Linked DNA regions of Homo sapiens. The protein of the gene in region 4 interacts with the protein of the main gene of each other region in a pairwise test. Each region holds a gene or a part of one and is shown on either strand. Other genes may lie near its edges.

Region 1 (5,388 bases), about 110 Mb from region 4:
TGGGAAGCCAAGGTGGACAGATCACCTGAGGTTAGGAGTTCGAGACTAGCCTGGCCAACATGGTGAAACCCGTCTCTACTAAAAATACAAAAATTAGCTGGGAATGTTGGCGGGCGCCTATAATTCCAGCTACTTGAGAGGTTGAGGCAGGAGAATCACTTGAACTCAGGAGGCAGAGGATGCAGTGAGCCAAGACCACGCCATTACACTCCAGCCTAGGCAACAAGAGCGAAAACTCCATCTCCAAAAAAAAAAAGATATTATTTGTTTTTAAAAAAGCTATTTGTATTAATTTCTTATTGCTGCTCAAACAATGATTACAACCTTAGTGACTTAAAACAACACAAACTTTCTGTCTTAGAATTCAGGAGGTCAGAAGTTCAGCAAGGCTCTCACTGAGCTAAAATCAAGGTGTTGGGAAGGCTGTGCTCCTTCATGAGGCTCTAGAAAAGCCTTGCCTTTTCTCCTAGAGGCTGCTGGCATTCCTTGCCTCAGGGCCCTGCAACTCTCTCAAGCCTCCGCTTCTCTTCTCATGGTCCCATCTATAATCTTCACTCTCCTGTCTCCCGCTGTGATTTACAAGGACGCTTGTGATTACACCACCCACCCAGATAACCCTGCCATTTAAGCAACCTTTAATCACTTCTGTAAAATCTCTTTTGCCACGTAAGGTGGCATACTCACAAATCCTGGGGACTGGGACGCACGCATGGGGAGGTGGGGTGTGGACATTATCTTGCCTGCCACTCTATTTATATTGGTCATGCAAATCACCCAAAAAGCCCAAAGAGGGGGTAGAGGGAGATGAACCTATAAGGAAGTCAATGGGCAAGTTAAAAATGTAAATTTGGACATTATAACTTATTTCATCAATACTGTTTTTATTTTTTTGTTTTTATTTATTTATTTATTTTGAGACAGAGTTTCACTTTGTTGCCCGGGCTGGAGTGCGGTGGCATGATCTCAGCTCACTGCAACCTCCGCCTCCCAGGTCCAAGAGATTCTTCTGCCTCAGCCTCCCAAGTAGCTGGGATTACAGATGCCCGCCACCACACCCAGCTAATTTTTGTATTTTCAGTAGAGACGAGGTTTCACCATGTTGGCCAGGCTGGTCTTGAACTCCTGACCTCAAGTGATCCGACCGCCCCGCTCTCCCAAAGTGCTGGGATTACAGGCATGAGCCACCGCGACCAGCAGATGGTGTGTTTTTAAAAACACCAAATGTTTTGTGCCTTCAGGTAAGTCATCAATAAAATATCCTTGTGAAAGAAATAATTTTTAAAGCTAAGGAGTAATGAACTAGAGAATAGAAGCCTCTTCTATTTTTTTCTTCACAATCGTTTGTATGCCCTGAGTTTTCTCTCAAGTTAAAAAGTCACCCCAAAGATGTCTTAAATGGGCAAAATCACCAGTGTCCAATGCAAGGATTTCCTTTTCCGTTTTGACATGGTAATTTTCTTGGTAATATAAATCACTTTAAAATCATTCCAGTTCAAAGGAATATAATCTCTCAAAAACTAAATGACTTTTCCTTCACAGAAGTTAATTTAATTTTGTTTGGATTATTGTACAACCTCCCTTTCATTACACCAGGCACATATTTCAACAGTAGAAACTTTTTTTAAAAAAATCATTATAGAAGATTACATTTTGCAACGGTTTTGTTTCTCCAGAGAAAAAAGTAATACTAATTTAATAATTTACTTGAGAAAAACCTCTGACAAATTGTAAATGTCCATCTATATACGTAATTCTTAATATCAATACCAAAACAAATTGAAAAGAATATTTTAAAATGTAATACGCCTACACTTTGCTATTTTTTTTTTTAAACAAGGTGTGTAAGTAAAACCAAATGGACAAATACCTTCTGACATATTTAATACCATGCAAGTTTTAAGACATGGTCTTGCTCTGTCACCCAGGCTGCAATGCAGTGACACAATCATGGCCCGCTGCAGCCTGGGCGCAAGTGTTCCTCCCATCCCAGCCTCCTGCATAGGTGGGGACCACATGGGAACACCACCATGTCCTGCTAATTTTTTTTATTTTTTATAGAGACGAGGTCTCGCCAAGTTGCCCAGGTTGGTTTTAGAGTCCTAGGCTGAAACGATCCTCCCCTCTTCTCAACCTCCCACAGTGCTGGGATTACAGGACTGAGCCACCATATCCAGACCCATCCAGAAACTGTGGAAATATTTAGATATTTCTAGAGTTACACTTGGCACTCTAGAGTGGACAGACACCATATGACACGTTATACGGATTTCTGGCAAGAGGCCCAAATACAATTAGAATCCAAATGGATTTGCCTCAAACATTGATTCTCAACACAATTAAGTTATGAGAAAAGGGAAAATAATAGATTAAATATAACAATATTTTTGCAGACAACTAATATAAGAAAACGTTACCAATACATGTTCTATGTTTTAAAAATCATGTAAGACCAGGCACAGTGGCTCACACCTGTAATCCCAGCACTTTGGGAGACCGAGGCGGGCGGGCTGCTTGAACCCAGGAGTTTGAGACCAGCCTGGGCAACAAGGGGAAACCTCATCTCTACAAAAAATGCAAAATTAGCCAGGCGTGGTGGTGCACGTCTGTAGTCCCATCTACCTGGGTGGCTGAGGTAGGAGAATTGCTTGAGCCCAGGAGGCAGAGATTGAAGTGAGCCAAGATCACACACCACTGCACTCTAGCCTGGGAGACAGTGAGACCACCTTGCCTCAAAAAAGTTAATTAGTTAATTAATTAAAAAATAAAACAATAAAAATCATCTAAGTCTTTACAGACATGTCAAAATTCTGAAAGTGGGACAAATTTTGCTCAGAAACCATCAGAATTATAATCCTCATGATGCCACTTCATCCTGCTACTTGATAAAGAAGAGATTCTGGTTCAGTCCGTAAGTCATTGATTTTCAACAGGGAACACCACTGCATGTGCACTTCACGTCACCCCAAAACTTCAGAGCACCGGGAGGCATTACTGATTCACATATTCCCTATAGTGAAAGCTGTTCATACCACTGCTATTGGGCAACTGAGTATTTCAGCATAAAAATTCCAGTTTCAGGCCAGGTGGTGGCTCACAACTGCAGTCCCAGTACTTGAGTCCAGGAGTCTGAAACCAGCCTGGGCAACACAGAGAGACCCCATCTCTACAAATCATTTTTAAAATTGGCGGGGCATGGTGGTATACACCTGTACGCCCAGCTACTAGGGAAGCTGAGGTGGGAGGACTGCTTAAGCCCAGGAGGTCAAGGCTGCAGTGAGCTGTGATCGCACCACTGCACTCCAGCATGGGCAACAGAGCAAGATCCTGTCTCAAAAAAAAAAAAAAAATGTGTGTGTGTGTGTGTGTGTGTGTGTATACGTGAATATATATACATATATGTGTGTGTAAACATATATATATACATATGTGTGTAAACATATATATATACATATATATGTGTATACATAGTTTCAATGTGAACTTGTTACTTAAGTTTGATTTTTTTCCCCCTATACCTTCAACAGCCCCAACCAAATCTCAGCTCCTAAACTTAAGAAAGATGCAGCTATTGTTTAGGAAGTAAGATAAACGCCAACTAGGAAGCAGCAGGTCCAATGACAACTGAATAAAATATTTCAAGTAAAAATCTCATTTGATAGTTATAGCAAACACATAGAATGATTTTTTTGAAAAAACAAATATTGCCATGAGTGAAAGTAGGGAGGTAGAGAAATTAAACATAAACCTGACTTTAGACTTTTCATGTCCATAGACTGCCTGGTGATAAACTGAAGCCTCTATACCCTTTCCTGTAAGACCCTTTCATACCCACTACTTACCTCAGTCTTCCTGACAACCAGTGAGAAGTAAAACTGGCTCTCCTGGGTTGAGCCCCAACTATTGAAAAACATAGAGAGCTAGGAAGCAGGCAAAGAATCTAGAAATTCATAGGAGGAGTAGGATAAAGGTTTGCCCAGACCCTAGTTCCCAAAAATATTCATTCGTTCATTGATATAAAAATACCTGAGTGCCTAGTATGTATGTAGCAGGCACTGTTGTACATACTAAGATACAGCTTTGAACAAAACATAAAATTACTGGCCCTCAGGAAGCTTAAATTCTAGAGTAGAGAGAGACAAATAATAAACAAGATGATGAAGCATATTAGAAGTGTTATGAAGAAAATTAATGCTGTGGGGAGGGATAATGGACAGGGATGAAATTTTAGATACGGCAGTCATGGAGGACCTCATTGAGAAGGCAATACATGAGAAAAGAAGCGAAGGTGGAGAGCAATCCAGGCAGAGCAAACAGCAAGTAAAAGGCTTGAGGCTTATTTATAGGAAAAAAAAAAAAGGTGGCAAGAGTGGCTGGAATGAAATGGAAAAGGTGGAAAACAGATTAGTTCAGAGATAAACTATATTTGGCCCTTGAACAACATGGAGATTAGGGGGACCAATCTCCCACACAGTAGAAAATCCATGTATAACTTTTAACTCCCCCCAAAATACTGATAGCCTACTGTTGACCGGAAGCCTTACTAATAGCATAAACAGTCGAACACATATTTGTATATGTATTATACACTGTATTCTTGTAATACATTAGAGAAAAGAAAATGTTATTAAGAAAATCATAAGGAAGAGAAAATACATTTACCAACTCATTAAGTCAAAGTGGCTCATCATAAAGGTCTTCATCATCATCATCTTCACCTTGAGTAGGCTGAGGAGGGGGAGGAGGAAGAAGAGGCATTATTCTTGCTGTCTCAGGGGTGGCAGAGCTGGTAGAAAACTCACGTATAAGTGGACGCGCACAGTTCAGACCTGTGTTATTCAAGGGTCAAAAGTATATGGAGGGAAGCTGAAGTGTGCAATACAGAGCATGTAGATGGCCTTGTAGAGTTTTTGAGGGACTCTGGCTTTTAATCCAAGTAAAACAGGTGATCACTAGAGGGTTCTGAGAAGAATTAGCTCCTCTGATGACAGCAGATTGTACGGAGGGCAAAGGCAAGGGTAGATCATGGTTTGGACAAGAATAGTGAGAAGTGGTCAGAGTACAGATATATTTTGAAGGTAGAGCCAAAGAATCTTCTCAGAAATAGAAGTGGGGCATAAGAGAAAGAAGAATCAAGGAGGGCCAAGGCTTTTGGCACAAGCAATGGAATGAGAAATTTGCCATCAACCAAGATGAGAGCCTGGGAAAAAATAGATTTGAAGGAGAGATCAGTTCTGTTTTAGCATTACTGAGCTTGAAATGAGCTTGAGTTTTTAAACACTCCAGGAAAGATGCTGAATAGGCAGCTGGATATATGAGTCTAGGATTCAGGAATACACATTACAGCACAGATTTAATATGGTGTTCTTATCTAACCCTGTGTCTTTTTAA
Region 2 (5,388 bases), on a different chromosome or scaffold from region 4:
AAAATCATTTCTTTAAATAATTTCCAACTTCATTTAATTTAAAAATGTTTTAATCTATTAATCACAGAAGATTTACTTACCATTAGTTCTAACAGATAGAATTCACATTCTAATATCTGTTTAAAACAAAGATTATCAATGAAATGTCAATATGAAACCAAATTAGATAAGTCCACTTAATCTAACATAAATTACAGACATTATAGTAATTTATCAAAAATTTTTACTAAAAAGTTTTAAAAATCCAGACAATAAACATAGTTTATATTAAAATAAATATCTGCAATAAAAAATTACTATTAGAAATGCAATTATGATTATAAGGATTTTAATCCTTGTAAGGAAAAGCCAGCTTCTCACAATCATTCTTATTACTCACTTTTATTTAAAATATCCTGTAAAACCATCAGATTTTCCAGTATACTTTCTACTCAGCAAATGCAAAAATACAATTATTTCTACTTAATTTAAAAAATGTAACTTAAAGAGAATAAACAAATCCCTTGCAAGGTGGAAAAAGGACATACCTATTAAAATGTCAATAGAAATTCACCTTATATTTCATATTGTTCCATTAGTTTTTAATCCCAGCTAAATAGTAGTATCACCTGGGACCTTTTACACAGTACCAATGTTGGGAGCCCCAAGGCTGAAAATTCTGATTTTGTTGTTCTGGAAAGGATCCAACATCAGTATTATTTACAAGTTCCCAAGGTGATTTAATGAGCAGCCAGGGTTGATAATCGCCACTATGAAGTATTTTTTTTAAATGGTAAAAGCTATTTAGCTTTAATTTAGAATAATGTCTGTATTTATGTAATATTTGAAACTGCCATTTCTAGGAAACTATTAAATTTAGTCTAATATAAAATAGAGCTAGTTTATATATAGCTTTGATAATTGTTCCATTTTATATCATATACTTACATGATTCATCCTATAAGGAAATTCCTTTGGAAAGGCATATGAAAATCTAGTTTTTACTGCAGAAAATAAAAAAAAAATTTAAACTGAGAAAATGGGAAATAAATTAACTCAAAATTCCTTTAACAGAGCAGAATATTAGAGGGTAGAGCAAAATTATTTTCAGTAGGAATTCTTGGCAACACTTACGGACGCAGATTTTTATTTACTTTCAGGGAAGGGGAAAGACTGGGGGGCAGGACACTCTACACAGCTTCAATTTTATATTTACTACCTTAAGAAAGGATTCTGATGTTTAAAAAAGAAAAAGATCAGGAAAAAAAAATCACTGGCTTTTATCATTTCTAAAATCTTTTCAGCTACAGAATGGTATTCTTCTGTTTTCCAGTGACTGAGCTTAGAAGGAACACAGGGGTTACATATGTGTTTACAATATATACAATTGGTAAAAAATATACATATAAAATATTGGGAGGATAGTACACCAAAAAAATGTTAACAGTGGTTATTTGTGAGATTTAAGAACTTTTTACTAATCTGCACTTTCTAAACTTTTTACAATGACCAGGTATTTATCAAAATATATATTTTAATAAAAGCATTAATATATATGCAAAGGTCTCGAGTTACTCATAAAGTAGTAGTAGTAACACATAAAGTTAGTACTCTATTATCTATTACTTTATTGGTTAGTCACTAAATAAAGTACAAATGAAAAAAAAATGTTAACCATCAATCCCCCATCTCCTTAAAATGGTGTGAGCATATACACATAAGTACTATTTGAGAAACTGTATTCAAGCCATTATGACACATTTAATTCAACCAAGTAACTACTGACAGGTCCTAAAAAATGTTTAGTGTCAGCTTCCATTTGTACAAAGCCCAAGTGATTTCACTGAAATTAAAAGAAATTCCATTTCTGGCCAGGCACAGTGGCTCATGCCTGTAATCCCAGCACTTTGGGAGGCCAAGGTGGGTGGATCACCTGAGGTCAGGAGTTCGAGACCTCCTGGACAACATGGTGAAACCCCATCTCTACTAAAAATACAAAAATTAGGCGAGTGTAGTGGCATGCACCTGTAGTCCCGGCTACTCGGGAGGCCGAGGCAGGAGAATCCCTTGAACCCGGGAGGCAGAGGGTGCAGTGAGCTGAGAACACACCACTGCACTCCAGTCTGGGTGACAGTGAGACTCCATCTCAAAAAAAAAAAAAGAAAGAAATTCCATTTCTTCTATGCACTATGTTTTCAAAAAGATTTGTTTTGCAAATTCAGTGCCCTACAGCTAATTTAGATGTGTAATATCTGCCAGGATTTGAAACCTAGAATAATTTAAACTTGACATTAGTAAATTTATAATCTTTCCTTTCTTCTCTCCTTTATTTAAATTTAAGACGTACCTATTAAGGTTTCTGAGTTTTACAAATCCTTGTGATGTAAAGTATACCAGCACAACAGGTTCTTATATAATGGTAGACAATCAACAAAGTAAAATTATCTCTGTATATAAAACAAATCTACATCCCCATCCCCTGGACCTTGACACCTAACACCTCTATTGAGAATATATTTACCTGATACTGTCACATGTCTGTTACTCCATGCTAAAACTGCTCTGCATTTTTTTCTGTCTTTTAATCCTTTTCCTCCAACTTGGAGAAAAATACATCCCTCCTCTCTATTGTTTGTCTTACCACTTATACACTTATTATCATCTATTCAATTGATAACTCCTGCTATTTTTTTCATCTTTAACCTTCCTCCTTCAGTAAATCTTCCATCACATACTAATATGCTCAAATTTCCCTTGAAAAAAGCAAAACAAACTCTACCTAATTATATTCCTCTGCCTTTTATTTTTGTAGACTCAAACACTGAGATCATGCACAGTTCTCTTATACCCACCGTTATTGACTTCCCAGCCTCCAGAACTGTGAGAAATAAATGTCTGTTGTGAAAGCCACCCAGTCTATGGTACTTTCTTATATTAGCCCAAGTGGACTAAGACATGCCTTCACCCAGCTTCCCCTACTATTAACATCTTACATTAGTATGGCGCATTTGTTACAATTACTGACCCAATATTGAAATGTTATTATTAACTAAACTGTACTTTTTTCAGATCTCCTTAGTTTGTACCAATGTCCTTTTTCTATCCTAGGGTCTTATCTAGGATACCACATTATATTTATTTGTCATGTTTCCTTAGACTGTTTGGCTGTGACAGTTTTCTAGCCTTTCCTTGTTTTTGATGACTTTGACAGTTTTTAGGAGTACCAGTCAAGTATTTTGTCAAATGCCCCTCTACTGGAATTTGTCTGATGTTTTTCTCATTAGACTAGAGAAAATGGGTTTTTGACAGGAAGACCACCGAGATAAAGTACCATCTTCATCATATCACATCAATGATACATGATATTAATGTGATTTATCACTGTTGCTACTGACCTTGATCGCCTGGCTAAGGCAGTATTTCTCAGGTTTCCCCACTGTAAAGTTACCTTTTTCCTCCCTTTCCATATGTACACACTAGCAGGAAGTTAACATGTATAGCCAGCACCTTAGGAGTGGGGAGTTATGCTCCCTCTACTTGAGGGCAGAATAGTTACATATATTATTTGGAATTCTTCAGCATGGAAGACATGTCTCTTCTCCCTCATTTATTTATATCAGTATGGACTCATGGATATTTAGTTTATACTTTGAGTTATTATCCAATGCTATTTTTAAAATTTTGATGCTCAAATTCTTTCAGCTTTGGTCAGTGGGAGCTCTCTTAGTTAGCTCCTATATCCTTTTGACATATCCTCATCAATAGACGTTTTTGTTTTTCTTGTTTGTTTTGAATACTTCTTTATTACTGGCATTAAGAGATGGTCCAGGTCCATCTTGTGTATTTCTTGCCCCAGTCCTAGAATCAACCATTTCTCCAAGGAGCCCTGGTACCTTTTATTGGAGAATGATATTAGAAACCAAGATATGGGTACTAGGTGAGCTCATTGCTACTGGGATGTCATTGCTTATAGACCCTTTCAGCTGAGAAAGCCAAGAAATACACACACTAACCCATGTATATACACTTATCTATAAATATTTCTATATGTAACTAACCATCTATATTGTATTAAGGTACACGAGTTCATGCTGTTTCCAGCCCTTTGCTTATCTGTAAATTCCCGCTCCAACAATGAGAAACCCGGCTCTCAAACATTTGCTATTGATTTACGTAATTGTTTAATTCCCATATACATGTATAGCATTATCAGAATTGTTAACTTGTACACCCATGGGTAATAACTTTATCAACTAGAGTACAGTGCTTATGTGTAGTTCCTTTTGCCTTTACTCTTACACTCTTAATCATTTCCAAAGCTACTTATGTCAACACCTTTCCCCCAATTCCCTTCACTGAAGTTGTTTCATATATTTTTAATATAGTTAGACTATTCCTTTCTCAGCACCTACTTGCTTCTTAATTCCTTGCAATCTGGCTTCTACCTCCACCCCCACATTGTTAATGACACTATGTTCTCTCTCAAAGATGTTTTTTTCTTTGGTTCACATCTTTTTCTATGCAGCATAAGACATTGTGGAACTCTTTTTTTTTTTAATTTTTAGGGACAGAGTCTTACTCCATTGCCCAGGCTGGAGTGCAGTGGCATAATCACAGTTTACTGCAGCCTTGAACTCCTGGGCTTAGGCAACCCTCCCACTTCAGCCTAGTTGAGTAGCTAGGACTACAGGTGTGTGCCACCATGCCCAGTTAGTTTTTCTTTAATTTTTTGCAGAGCTGGAATCTTGCTATGTTGTCCAGGCTGGTCTTGAACTCCTGTTCTAAAGCAATCCTCCTGCTCCAGCCTCCCAAAGTGTTCGGATTATAAGCAGGAACCACCATACCTGGCCTGTGCAACTCTTAAATGTTATCAAATTCCAAATTTCTACTGCTGGCCTCACATTTTTAAGAGGATGTTCTACTAACATATTTATACTTAGAATGTCAAAGATTAAATTTAATTCTTTTCAGAACTCACTTATTCTCTTTTTCAGTACCAGCTTCAGCTCCCCAACCCCCAGGCAAAAAAACCTCAAAACACATTTCTGACTCTTCTTAAATCCCTTCTTTTTATAAGAACTGCTGACTCTATCGCTCAAATCTGGCTTGTTTGTTCTTCTTGCTGGCTGCCAATATTCGTTTAAGCCTTCATTAGTGTTCACTGGGATGACTTCAGCAACTTAAAAATTATTTTTTCCACTTTAAACTTGTTAGGTTTTATTTCTCATAGCACCCTGTGGTAAGTGACAGCACTCAATACAGTTTGCAGTTTTACTGTATTTCAGAAGGTTTTTGTTTTTAAATTGTGTTAAGATATACAAAATTTTTGCAAAACTGAAACTCTGTATCCATTAATCACTCCCTATACCACCCTTCCTCCAGCCCTACCATTCTACTTTCTATCTTTAT
Region 3 (5,388 bases), on a different chromosome or scaffold from region 4:
TGGTGTGATTATAGCTCACTGCAGCCTCAAACTCCTGGGCTCAAGTAATCCTCCCACCTCAGCCTCCTGAGTAGCTGGGACTACAGGCATGCACCACCACACCTGGCTAATTTTTTTTTTTTTTGGAAAGACGGGATCTCACCAGGTTGCCCAGGCTGGTCTCGAACTCCTGAGCTCAAGCTATCTGCCCTCCTTGGCCTCCCAAAGTGCTGGGATTACAGGAGTGAGCCACCTCCTGCCGGGCTGTTTTCATTTTTTAATACAAGGTGGTTTTACATGAACTAAGAAGGAAAAGTTTTCAAGACATATTTTTTAGAACATGAAAAATATAGTATGATTTCATTTGGGAAAAAGAAAACCTCCCAAAATTAGATGGGCAAGGCAAAGGCCCTGATGGACATACATCAAACTAATAAGGAAGTGACCTTTGGAAAGGGGAGTGGAATTGCAGGTGGGTATTGTCAAGAGGGGCTTTCACTTTATCTGTTTGGTGTGAAAGTTTTCACAATGAGAGTGTATTATGTTACTTGTGTAAACCAAATGAAATGAAATATGGGAACCTTGATTGGATCACCTTTTTTTAAGCTACAAAAGTTACTTTTGGGACAATTGGGGAGGTTTGAAAATGTACTATATATTAGATAATATTGTGGTTACGTAGGATGTTCTTATTTTTAGGAGTTCCTTGCTGAAATACTTAGGGGTAAAGTGTCAAGAAGTCTGCAACTTTCAAATGGGAAAGAGAAGAAGAAAGGGTAAAGGAAGGAAGATGGGAAGAAAGGAAGGAAAGGATGGAGGGAGGGAAGAGGAGCAGGAGGGAGGAGGAGAGGCAATGGAAATGGGTGAGGAGGCAAGAAGGGAAAGAAAAAAACAAATGTCAAGGCAAAGCAATAAAACAAGAATGTTAATCATTGGTGAATCTAAGTGAAGATATATTGGTGTTCAAGGTATTATCTTCTAACTTTTTTGCAGGTTTGAAAATAAAAAAAAAAGAAAAACAAAACATCACTACCCCTCACCTGGCTGGAAGTGATGGATTTCTCCCTTGTACTCTTCTCATACTTGGCAATGTCACTCATATTACTAGTGATCACCTCTGGGAATGTCTTACTTTCCATGAGCTCCTGAAAGGAGACATCTTTCAATTCTTTGTCCCCCTCTCTGCAGCTAGCATGCTGCCCAGCGCAGAGCAGGCAGTGGTAATTACGGGTAAGAAATGAGTCCATGTAGGCTGGAAGATGCAAGGCATTCACCTATGAGGCCAGCGAATATGAAGTCGAGGCCTGGAATTGCAGTATCAGTTCTGATGAGAGGCATGACAGGTGTGTCTCCTGGCTGCCTGGCCTGGTCCCAGCAGAGAGTTACTCAGGCCTGGAGCCAGGTCTTTCTAGGGGGACTACTGAATGGAACTGTAGTCTGAGAGTGCTGTTACAAACTGCCTGAGTAGTTTTCACATTGATACTTTGTACATTACAAAGTGATAGAAAAGTAAAGTGCTCCTACAACCCTTTCTCTTTTTATTTTTACAGTGACTCTGAGAGATAGGTATTACAGTATTTCCATTTGACAGATGAGGAAATGTGCTCAGAGAAGGAAAGTGACTACTCCAAGGCCATACACGGAGGAACTGGGCTCAATCTCATGTCTTCAAGACTAAAGTTCTTTCCACTAGACCATGCTGCCTTCTCTGAGGTCTGATTCCTAACCTAATAGGAGAAAGACACACTTACCTGATTCAGTCTTTGTCTGGACTACATCTCCCCACACTGCGAGATCACCACAGGTAGCTTGGGCTTATTGTTGGGGCCTGTGGGAACATTCTAGGAAAAAAAGCACAATGGAGATTCATCCACTCAGGCACTTCCTCGTTCCCTTATCAAACTTTTACTGATGCCTGCCAGCCCTGTGCTAAGGACTCAGCACTCAGAAACAGTCCATGTCCTGGCAGACAGGTAAAGCATATAATACCTATCAAAGAGAAAATGCAAAACACTTAGAAAATATCAAACTTATGATTATATAAGAAAAAGTTATAAGAGAGAATTGGATAAGGGTTAGATAGGCAACTAAATTGGGGCTTAAAGAGGTCAGGGAAGGATTCACAAAAGAGGGGTATTTGAACTGTGCCTAGAAGGATGAATGGGATTCCATCAGGAGGGAAGGAAAGAAGAGCATTCCGGCTAGAGGAAACTGTGTGAGCAAAGGCTCAGGGGCAGGAAAGAGCAAGCAGCAGGGACATGCATGGCAGATTTAGAGAAGAGCTAGTAGCCTGATGTGACTGGAACATGGAAGAGGCAATGGCAGAAGAAGGGGCCATGGAGAGGTAGACAGGGACTAATCATGAAGGACCTTGAACGCAATGCTGAGGAGTAGAATTTTATCAAGTAGGCAACAGGATCATCAGAGGCCAAACCTCAGTGTTGGCCAGACAGGCTAACTTAGGTGGTTCTCTTCCCTTTTCCTGGGGCAATGAAGACAGCCTAACAAACTGGAGCTCATTCCCCCTTCTCTAGCTCCTGCACGCTAGTCAGACAGTACCAGACCACAATGGCAGAGAAACAGAAAAATCAAAGCAGTACTTACCTCAATCTTTCTCATCACTAGAAGTCCATCGATGATTTTTCCTGTAGGAAGAGCATGAGCTGGACTTTATTCTTGTTTACATAGCATTTTCCAGCTTCCAAAGCCCATTCTTAGCTATTTTCTCATTAAACCCTCATACTAACTTTAGGAAATTAAGATGCGGTAGAGGTGAAATGACTTGCTCAAGGTCATAGGTAATAAGTAGAGTTAGGGCTCAAACTTATACCTGAGTGACTCCAAAGTCTCACCGTATCATGCTGCCTCTATGGCATTTCTTTGGTGCTAGCAACTGGGTTTTCTCCCTAAGTGGTTCCATACTATATCAAATGGTCCTTTTGTCCTTCCCTCTAGTTCTCTAGCCACACATGTTCCCCACCTCCCCACCATTTCTGTTTTCTCTATTACCACCTAAGCAGTTACACAGGTTGAGCTTTCTTGGTAAGAGTTTGAGAACTAACTCCTCTGGAGGTTCCATCCAGGGTGAATGGGGCCTGGACCATGAGACAGGAGTAGGACTTACCAAACACCACATGCTTCCCATCCAGCCAATCGCACTTAGAGCAGGTGATAAAGAACTGACAGCCATTTGTACTTGGACCACTGTTCGCCTGATGGAAACCAAATATACCTGCAGTAAGTTTCCCCGGCCATGTTAGCTGAAGGGCAAGATTTCCAAAAGAGCTTGTAACACTGATTCCTCTATGGTTTTTTTCAGTAAATCTAACTTAGCACCTATTATGAGCCAGGGCCTAAGCTAGGATCCAAGGATACAGAGATGAACAGGATATGGCTCACTGCAGCCTCAAACTCCTGGGCTCAAGCAATCCTCCCCACCTCAGCCTCCCTAGTAGATGGGACTACAGGTGTGTGTCACCACACCTGGCTAATTTTTTTTTTCTTTTTTAAGTAGAGACTAAGTCTCACTATGTTGCCCAGATTGTTCAAACTCCTGACCTCAACCTCAAGCAATCCTCTTGCTTCGGCCTCCCCAAAGTGCTGGGATTACAGGTGTGAGCCACCACACCCAGCTATGAATATGTCTTGAAAGCACAACTGTTTACATTCTGAGCAGTAGGGCTGAATGCCCAGACACAAATCCTGGTTCAGATTTTAGTTCCCCAGCCTGCTAGCCTGCTAGTGGGCCTTACCTACTGGTTTTCTTTTCTTTCTTTTCTTTGTTTTAAGATGGAGTTTCGCTCTTGTTGCCCAGGCTGGAGTGCAGTGGGGCAATCTCAGCTCACTGCAACTTCCCCGTCCTGGGTTCAAGCGATTCTCCTGCCTCAGCCTCCCGAGTAGATGGGATTACAGGCACCCACCACCACACCTGGCTAATTTTTTGTATTTTTAGTAGAGATGGGGTTTCACCATGTTGGCCAGGCTGGTCTCGAACTGCTGACCTCAGGTTATCCACCTGCCTCAGCCTCCCAAAGTGCTGGGATTACAGGCGTGAGCCAGCATACCTACTGGTTTTCTCAGTCAAACCAGACTAAGAAAGGAGGTGGTAAAGGTGAGTCCTGGGCCAAGCAAGAGAAGGAAAGCATTTGCTTCCATCCCAAGAGACAGCACTGGGCCTCAAGAGGGGCCCAGGAACCAGCTGGCTATAACCCAAAACCTTGATTGGACCTCACTTACCATGGAAAGCAGGCCTGGAGCTGAGTGTCTAAGTTTAAAATTTTCATCTGCAAATGGCCCCCGGTAAATACTGGCGACTCCAGTACCATCTCCCTGAGCAGAGAGAAGGGAAGTATTAGTGACTTGGAGTGTTGGGTCCCTGGAAACCGGAGGAAGAACACTGTCGCACCTAAAGCATGACATCTTTAAAGTCTACTCTTACTCTTGTTGGTCATCTTGGAAGCTGCACCTATTTGACCCCACCCTGCAATCAGATCAAGCCTTATATAAGGTACCTACAGCCCACAAAGACTGGCTGGAGCATTTTATAGACTGGATAAAAGAGGTCACAGCTGGGCCTCTAGAACGATCAATTAAGATGCAGACAAAGTAGGGAACAGCAACAAGGTGATCACATACTCAATCCTTGCCATTCCTGAAGACTCTCATGCCTTCAGTCACATAAAAGTACCCACTTAAGTGACTACCACCCCATTCCCCTAAACTATCTAAGAGGGTGGGTGAGCTCTTGGCAGTCTGTATGTACAACATGATACCACCCTCCTGGTCATAGTTGATTGATCTAGGGAAGGATGCCTAACTCACTCTGGGCCAACTAGAGTTCCTTCTCTGGGAATCTGGAGGTGGGATAGATGCTCTCTTTGAGGCTAAATTTGTAACATGTAAACCTGAAAGCTGGATGTGACTACCATTTGCAAGCTGGGCTAGAGAACAGAGAGAGAACACAACACAGATGTGTAGCGAGCACTAGAGAAACGGAGATAAAGAACTGCCTTGGTTCTCTATGGTTCTAGTTCCTAGTTCTATTTCTTCCTTTAGTTCCATGAAACACTCCCTTTATTATAAACTCCCAATTTCTGCTTAAACTAGCTTTATTTGCATTATCTCCTTGCTCTTCCAGCAACCTTGAGGAATAAGCATTATCATCTTCCCCATTTTTCATGTGAGGAAACTGAAGTCTGGGTAATAAAACAATTTGACCAAGGCCATATTTGCAGTGCCTTAAATAGAATCCCTGAGTTTTAAAGGCAATATTGAGGAGTGCCAAAAAGATCAAGCTCTCCTCGCCAGTTAGTAAAGAGAAAGAGTACATGGGAGAAAGGGAAAACACTGACCCAGTGAGGAATCAAGGGTCCCTTTTTGGAAAAGAACTACCATTAATATAAGCCAGAG
Region 4 (5,388 bases):
ATGACGTCTTCCTCAACTATGATCTTATTCAGAGGGACAGCTACACATACAAGAGCCAGGAATTAAAGGAAACAGAAAAATAAGTTTATGTTTCCTTAAGCATTAAGAACTTTAAGCCATATTTATTTTACATGCTACTTACATGATACAAAATTGCTTTTTAATTAAGATTATACACTAACACTCCAAAAGCAGCACTATAGCAAAAATCAGACAGCAAGATATTGCCAAGCGTTGGCAGGGCTGGAAAGACAGGGGACCCTCACACTGCTGGGTGTAGACTAGGACAGCCATTCCAGAGAGTAACTTGGCAGTACTTAGACAAGTTAAATATACATATATAAATCCCACAATCCCACTTTGCTAGGCCATCGTGGTTATGCACAAGACTGTTCATCAGGAAGCTGTTTGTGGTAGGAGAGAGCTGGGAACAATCTAGCTGTCCATCATTACCGGAGAACAAAAAGTCAAATGCAGTGAATGGCGTAACACATGGAATCCTATGTAGCAATTAAAAGCAAAGGATTCAGTGTACACAGAGCATCAAGGATAGCTCTTAAAAACATAGTGCTAACTGAAAAAAAGAAAAGTAAAACACGGAATAAAGAATTTCACAGCATAACATCATTTATGTAAATCAAAAATACATGCTCACAAAACACTGCAGGTCACAAGAGCACCAACAAACAGAAAGATGCATATCCAACATATTAGAATGGGTTCCTTTTGAAGGCAGGAAGTAGGGGAATGTGAGTGGAGGATGAGAAAAAGGGGAGTAAATAAATAAAAGCGAGGAGTAAATAAACAAAAGACCAAGGACAACAGTGTGCTCTGCCCTCAACAATCTGCCCGACTCAGTCATCTGCTCCAGAGGAAAAAGAAGGGTGCCAGGGATGTGCTGGGCTTGGTGTAGAGATTACCTCTAACTCTTCAATTGTGGTGTTTTCCTCATGAACTTTCAGATCATTCTGTGTGTCTTCCTCTCCAGGCTCCTGACCGCCGACGATTTCATTGAGGTACTGCTGATCAATCTTATCCAAGGCTGCTTTCAAATCATTCCTCAATCCCTAAGAAAAGCAAAAAAAGGAAGAACACCTGTTATGAAAGGAAGAACACCTGTTTTTTCACCTTTGATTTTTCATTAATAACTGCAAATATTTTTTCCCCCACAAGAAGAGTTCAGCAAAAGTAGGGACTCAAATCACATCAATTTATCACACAACTATCACTACTGTCCATTTAAAGTTAATTCTTACGGACCTATTTAAATTAAAACAATGCACAAACAATGGCCAGTCTGCTGGTCAGAAAAATAAAATACACGTGAGTGACAAATCCAAGTAAGAATCTTCATCAATGCTGTAATTTTCTAATGAGGCTTAGTGACAGTGGCAGGTCTCCATTAGAGTCCCCAACCCGTTTGCCCAGCTCATTTACAATGTCTAACCTCAACTACTGTGAACTCCCAAAACATTCAGAAACATCAGTGTAATAAAATTGGTGCCTCATCTATATCCCAGGTTCTCAACTATGTTTCTAGCAAACCAGCAAATTCGCATTTTATGCACATATGGTTCATGACCCTTTAATGAAAATGGAAGCCTCATCTTCCTAAAAATGAATGAGAATCAGCTGCAAGGTTTAAGAGCCAAGGAAACATGGCTGTGAGGCGGCTATAGGGTAATGGTTGAGAGTAAAAGCTATCTGGGTTCAAATCCTTGCCACATACTATTAAATAGCTCTTTGAAAGCTTGCTTAACCCCTGTGTGCCTCAGTAGACTCACCTACAGAATAGGAGTAATGGCACCATCTACTACGTAGGGCTGTAATAAGGATGCTATTTTTTATTTCAGTGAACAGTTACTATGTGATGCAGCTGTTCCAGAACCTCGCAAACATCAAGTCACGCAAGTAAGCTAAGAAATGGACGATGAGCTTTGAACAGTTACTGGAGCACGGTGCACATTCAACCAATGTTAACTCCTAACGTTCTCACACAAAAAGCATCTGATCATTGTCTCCTGTCCCTTCATAAACACAGAAGAGAAACATTCAACTCAAAACACTTATAATTTCTCAAACACTGACTGATCACCTGCTGTGTAAAAAGTATGACGCCAGGCATTCCCAGAGGTCACCTCATCGAATTCTCAGTGCATCCCAGTGAGCCAAATATCACTGCCTCTGTTTTACCAATGAAGATTCTAAGGTTCAAATAGAGTAAAAGACTTGCCAACGGCCAAATAATTGATTACTATAATCCAGGAATGGAATCCAGACCTTGTGCTCCTGTGCTTTGTCCTCAAAACCTCTAGATGCACGGCACAGGACTTGGCATACAAAGGTAAAACAGCCTTTGCCCACCAGGAAGAGATAAATATGCACATAACTCTAATAATAGCGAAAAACAGTAAGTACACTAACAAAGGTTTACTCATAGGCACATGGAGAAGGAAGCAATTAATTCTGACTGGGACCAAAAATAGATTCCGAGAGAAGATGTGGTCACTGAATTGCATGTGAAAGTATAAAAACAAGATTTCAACCAGAGCATACAAGGCAGAAACACAGCAAGCAAAGGAAAAATGATCATTACAGACACAGAGGACTGAAAGCAACTGCTAGTGTTGTGGGGCTGGAATGACAATGCTGGGAAGTAAAGCAGGAAAGTGGTTTGGCAACAAAGAAAGCAGTCAGACAGCCCAGGCTAGCAGACAGAGCAGGTCGGGGAGCGGGCCTGGCCAGCCCCAGCTGTTCCTGCCATTCCAACTGAGACGCCAGGAAAGGGGCAAGATATCAGCTTAGAAGACCAGTCCAGAGGCAGCCTCACATGATTTCGGCCGCAGCCTTCATCTGACTGCAATCACAATAAAGACCCCAAGCAAGATACTGCTCAATCCAGCCCAATAAAACCACAGAACTGGTAATTATTAAGACAATAACAAATTATCTTAAGCTATCAAGTTTCAGGGTGGCTTGTTAATCACCAAAAACAGATTTGGTAATGATAAATCCTTTATAATAAATAAACAAACACTAGTAAGTTTTGGAGTAGTCTGTTACATAGTCATAGGTAACCACACCTGTCTCTCAATAATTGAGAAAGCAAGTAGATAAAAAGTTAGCAAGGCCAAAGAAGATCTGAACAACACTATCATCACTGACATTTGTAGAACTGTACCATGAAAGCAAAACAATACTCTTTTCAAGAGCCCATGGAATAAACCATATGCTAAGCCATAAAACAAGATCAGAGCCTTAAATGTAAAGCAAAAACTATAATATTAAGCTTCTAGAAGAAAATTAAGAATATATATTTGAAATCTTGGGATAGGCAAAGATTTCTTAAGCAGGACACAAAAAGCAATGACCATAAAAGGAAAAAACAATAAATTGGACTTCATTAAAATATAAAACTTCTGGCCCGGGCACTTCGGGAGGCCAAGGCGGGAGGATCCCTTGAGTAGAGGAGTTCAAGATCAGCCTGGGCAACATGAGGAGGCCTCATCTCTACAAAAATTAAAAAATCAGCCAGGCATGGTGGCACACACCTGTGGTCTCAGCTACTTGGAAGGCTGAGGTGGGAGATCGCTTAAGCCCAGGAGCTAGAGGTTGCAGTTAGCCATGATCATGCTGAACTCCAGCCTGGGTGAGAGTGAGACCCTGTCTCAAAAAGCGTGTGTGTACACACACACAAACTTCTGTTCAGCAAAAGATTCAATTAAGAGAACAGGTAAGCCCTAAACTACAAGAAAATAGTCACAAAAAATATTCGTATATCTGACAAAGAACTTCTATCCAGAATATACAAAGAATTCCTATAATCCATTTACAAAAAGACAAGTTTATTTTTAAAATGAACAAAAAGCGCCTGTAATCCCAGCTACTTGAGAGGCTGAGGTGGGAGGACTGCTTAAGCCCAGGAGGTTGCAGCTGCCATGAGCCATGATTATGCCACCGCATTCCAGCGTAGGTGACGGAGTGAGACTCTGTGTCAAAAAAATAAATAAATAAGGAAAGAAAGACTTTAACAGACACTACACAAATGAACACAACTTTATGAAAAGATGCTCCTCATCTTTAGTCATCAGGTAATGTGATTAAAGCCGCAAAGAGCTACTACCAGACACAAAAGAGAATGGTTAAAATTAAAAAGACTAACAATACCACATGCTGGGGTTTGGAAATGACTGGCATTTCTTATGAAGTTAAGCATACATCTACTCTTATTATCCAGCAATTCTACTTCTAGGTATCTCCCCAAGAGACCTATTTATTTACCCAAGAAAAATAACATAGTTCCAAAAAAAGATCTGCATAAGAATGGTCATAGCAGTTTTATCCCTGTTTTTTTTTTTTTTTTTTTTTTTTTGAGAAGGAGTCTCACTCTGTCGCCAGGCTGGAGTGCAGTGGCACAATCTCAGCTCACTGCAACCTCCACCTCCCGGATTCAAGTGATTCTCTTGCCTCAGCCTCCCAAGTAGCTGGGAATACAGGCACACGCCACTACGCCCAGCTAATTTTTGTATTTTTAGTAGAGACGGGGTTTCACCATGTTGGCCAGGATGGTCTCGATCTCTTCACCTTGTGATCCACCTGCCTCAGCCTCCCAAAGTGCTGGGATTACAGGCTTGTGCCACCACGCCCAGCCAGCAGTTTTATTCCTAATAGCCCAAAGCTGGAAACAAATTTTGATATATTCATACAACTGAGTATCACTGGAAAATGAAAAGGAAACCAGTGGTATCTGCAATAACATGGATGAACCTAAAAACTGATATGCTGAGCGAAAGAAGCCAGACACACAATCTATGAGTCCATCTGTATGAAATACAAGAACAAGCAAAATTAATCCATGATGACAAAATTCAAATGGTGGCTGCCCAGGAAGGGATGAGGAGAAATATGAGGATAGGCTGAGAAGGGGTACTGGGGAAATTTCCTTTTTCTCTTTTTTTTCAACTTTTAAGTTCAGGGATACAGCTGCAGGATGACAGGTTTGTTACATAGGGAAACGTGTGTCGTGGTGGTTTACTTCACAGATCATCCCATCACCCAGCTATTGAGCCCAGCATCCATTCGCTATTCTTCCTGATGCTCTCAGGGAAATTTCTTTGGTGACGAAAATGTTCTATTTCTTTATAAGGGCAATGGTTATATGCTTGTATGTATTTGTCAAAATGCATTAAATGTTATACTTAAGATATGAGCTTTTCAAAAAATTAATGAAAACTTCCATTCAGCAGCAATAATCTGCTCACTTTACTTTTCCATTGTTGCCTACAATAATGCAATTAGTCAAACTCTATTCTAGTGAATGCAGTACAGTGGTATTTTTCTAGCTTTGTTCTGTCCTCTTACCTTGTTAACTTCTGGTGTGAGGATCTC

The links. Proteins that work in one complex are often made in the same cells at the same time.
Region 1: the proteins of PRPF18 (region 4) and ZRANB1 interact in binary tests that used the Homo sapiens proteins (3 or more experiments, as listed by UniProt).
Region 2: the proteins of PRPF18 (region 4) and CCNC interact in binary tests that used the Homo sapiens proteins (3 or more experiments, as listed by UniProt).
Region 3: the proteins of PRPF18 (region 4) and PPIH interact in binary tests that used the Homo sapiens proteins (3 or more experiments, as listed by UniProt).

Annotation. Positions count from the first base shown.
Region 1 is NC_000010.11:124,947,483-124,952,870, reverse strand, and holds part of ZRANB1 (ubiquitin thioesterase ZRANB1), read right to left. Parts: intron 1-5,388. UniProt on the Homo sapiens protein: Ubiquitin thioesterase, which specifically hydrolyzes 'Lys-29'-linked and 'Lys-33'-linked diubiquitin. Also cleaves 'Lys-63'-linked chains, but with 40-fold less efficiency compared to 'Lys-29'-linked ones.
Region 2 is NC_000006.12:99,550,913-99,556,300, forward strand, and holds part of CCNC (cyclin-C), read right to left. Parts: intron 2,890-5,388; exon of another isoform or gene 984-2,889; coding exon 928-983; exon of another isoform or gene 117-927; coding exon 81-116; exon of another isoform or gene 1-80. UniProt on the Homo sapiens protein: Component of the Mediator complex, a coactivator involved in regulated gene transcription of nearly all RNA polymerase II-dependent genes.
Region 3 is NC_000001.11:42,663,783-42,669,170, reverse strand, and holds part of PPIH (peptidyl-prolyl cis-trans isomerase H), read right to left. Parts: intron 4,309-5,388; coding exon 4,216-4,308; intron 3,192-4,215; coding exon 3,104-3,191; intron 2,625-3,103; coding exon 2,584-2,624; intron 1,821-2,583; coding exon 1,752-1,820; 3' UTR 1,731-1,751; intron 1,125-1,730; exon of another isoform or gene 1,020-1,124; intron 1-1,019. UniProt on the Homo sapiens protein: PPIase that catalyzes the cis-trans isomerization of proline imidic peptide bonds in oligopeptides and may therefore assist protein folding. Participates in pre-mRNA splicing.
Region 4 is NC_000010.11:13,605,718-13,611,105, reverse strand, and holds part of PRPF18 (pre-mRNA-splicing factor 18), read right to left. Parts: coding exon 5,362-5,388; intron 1,068-5,361; coding exon 921-1,067; intron 1-920.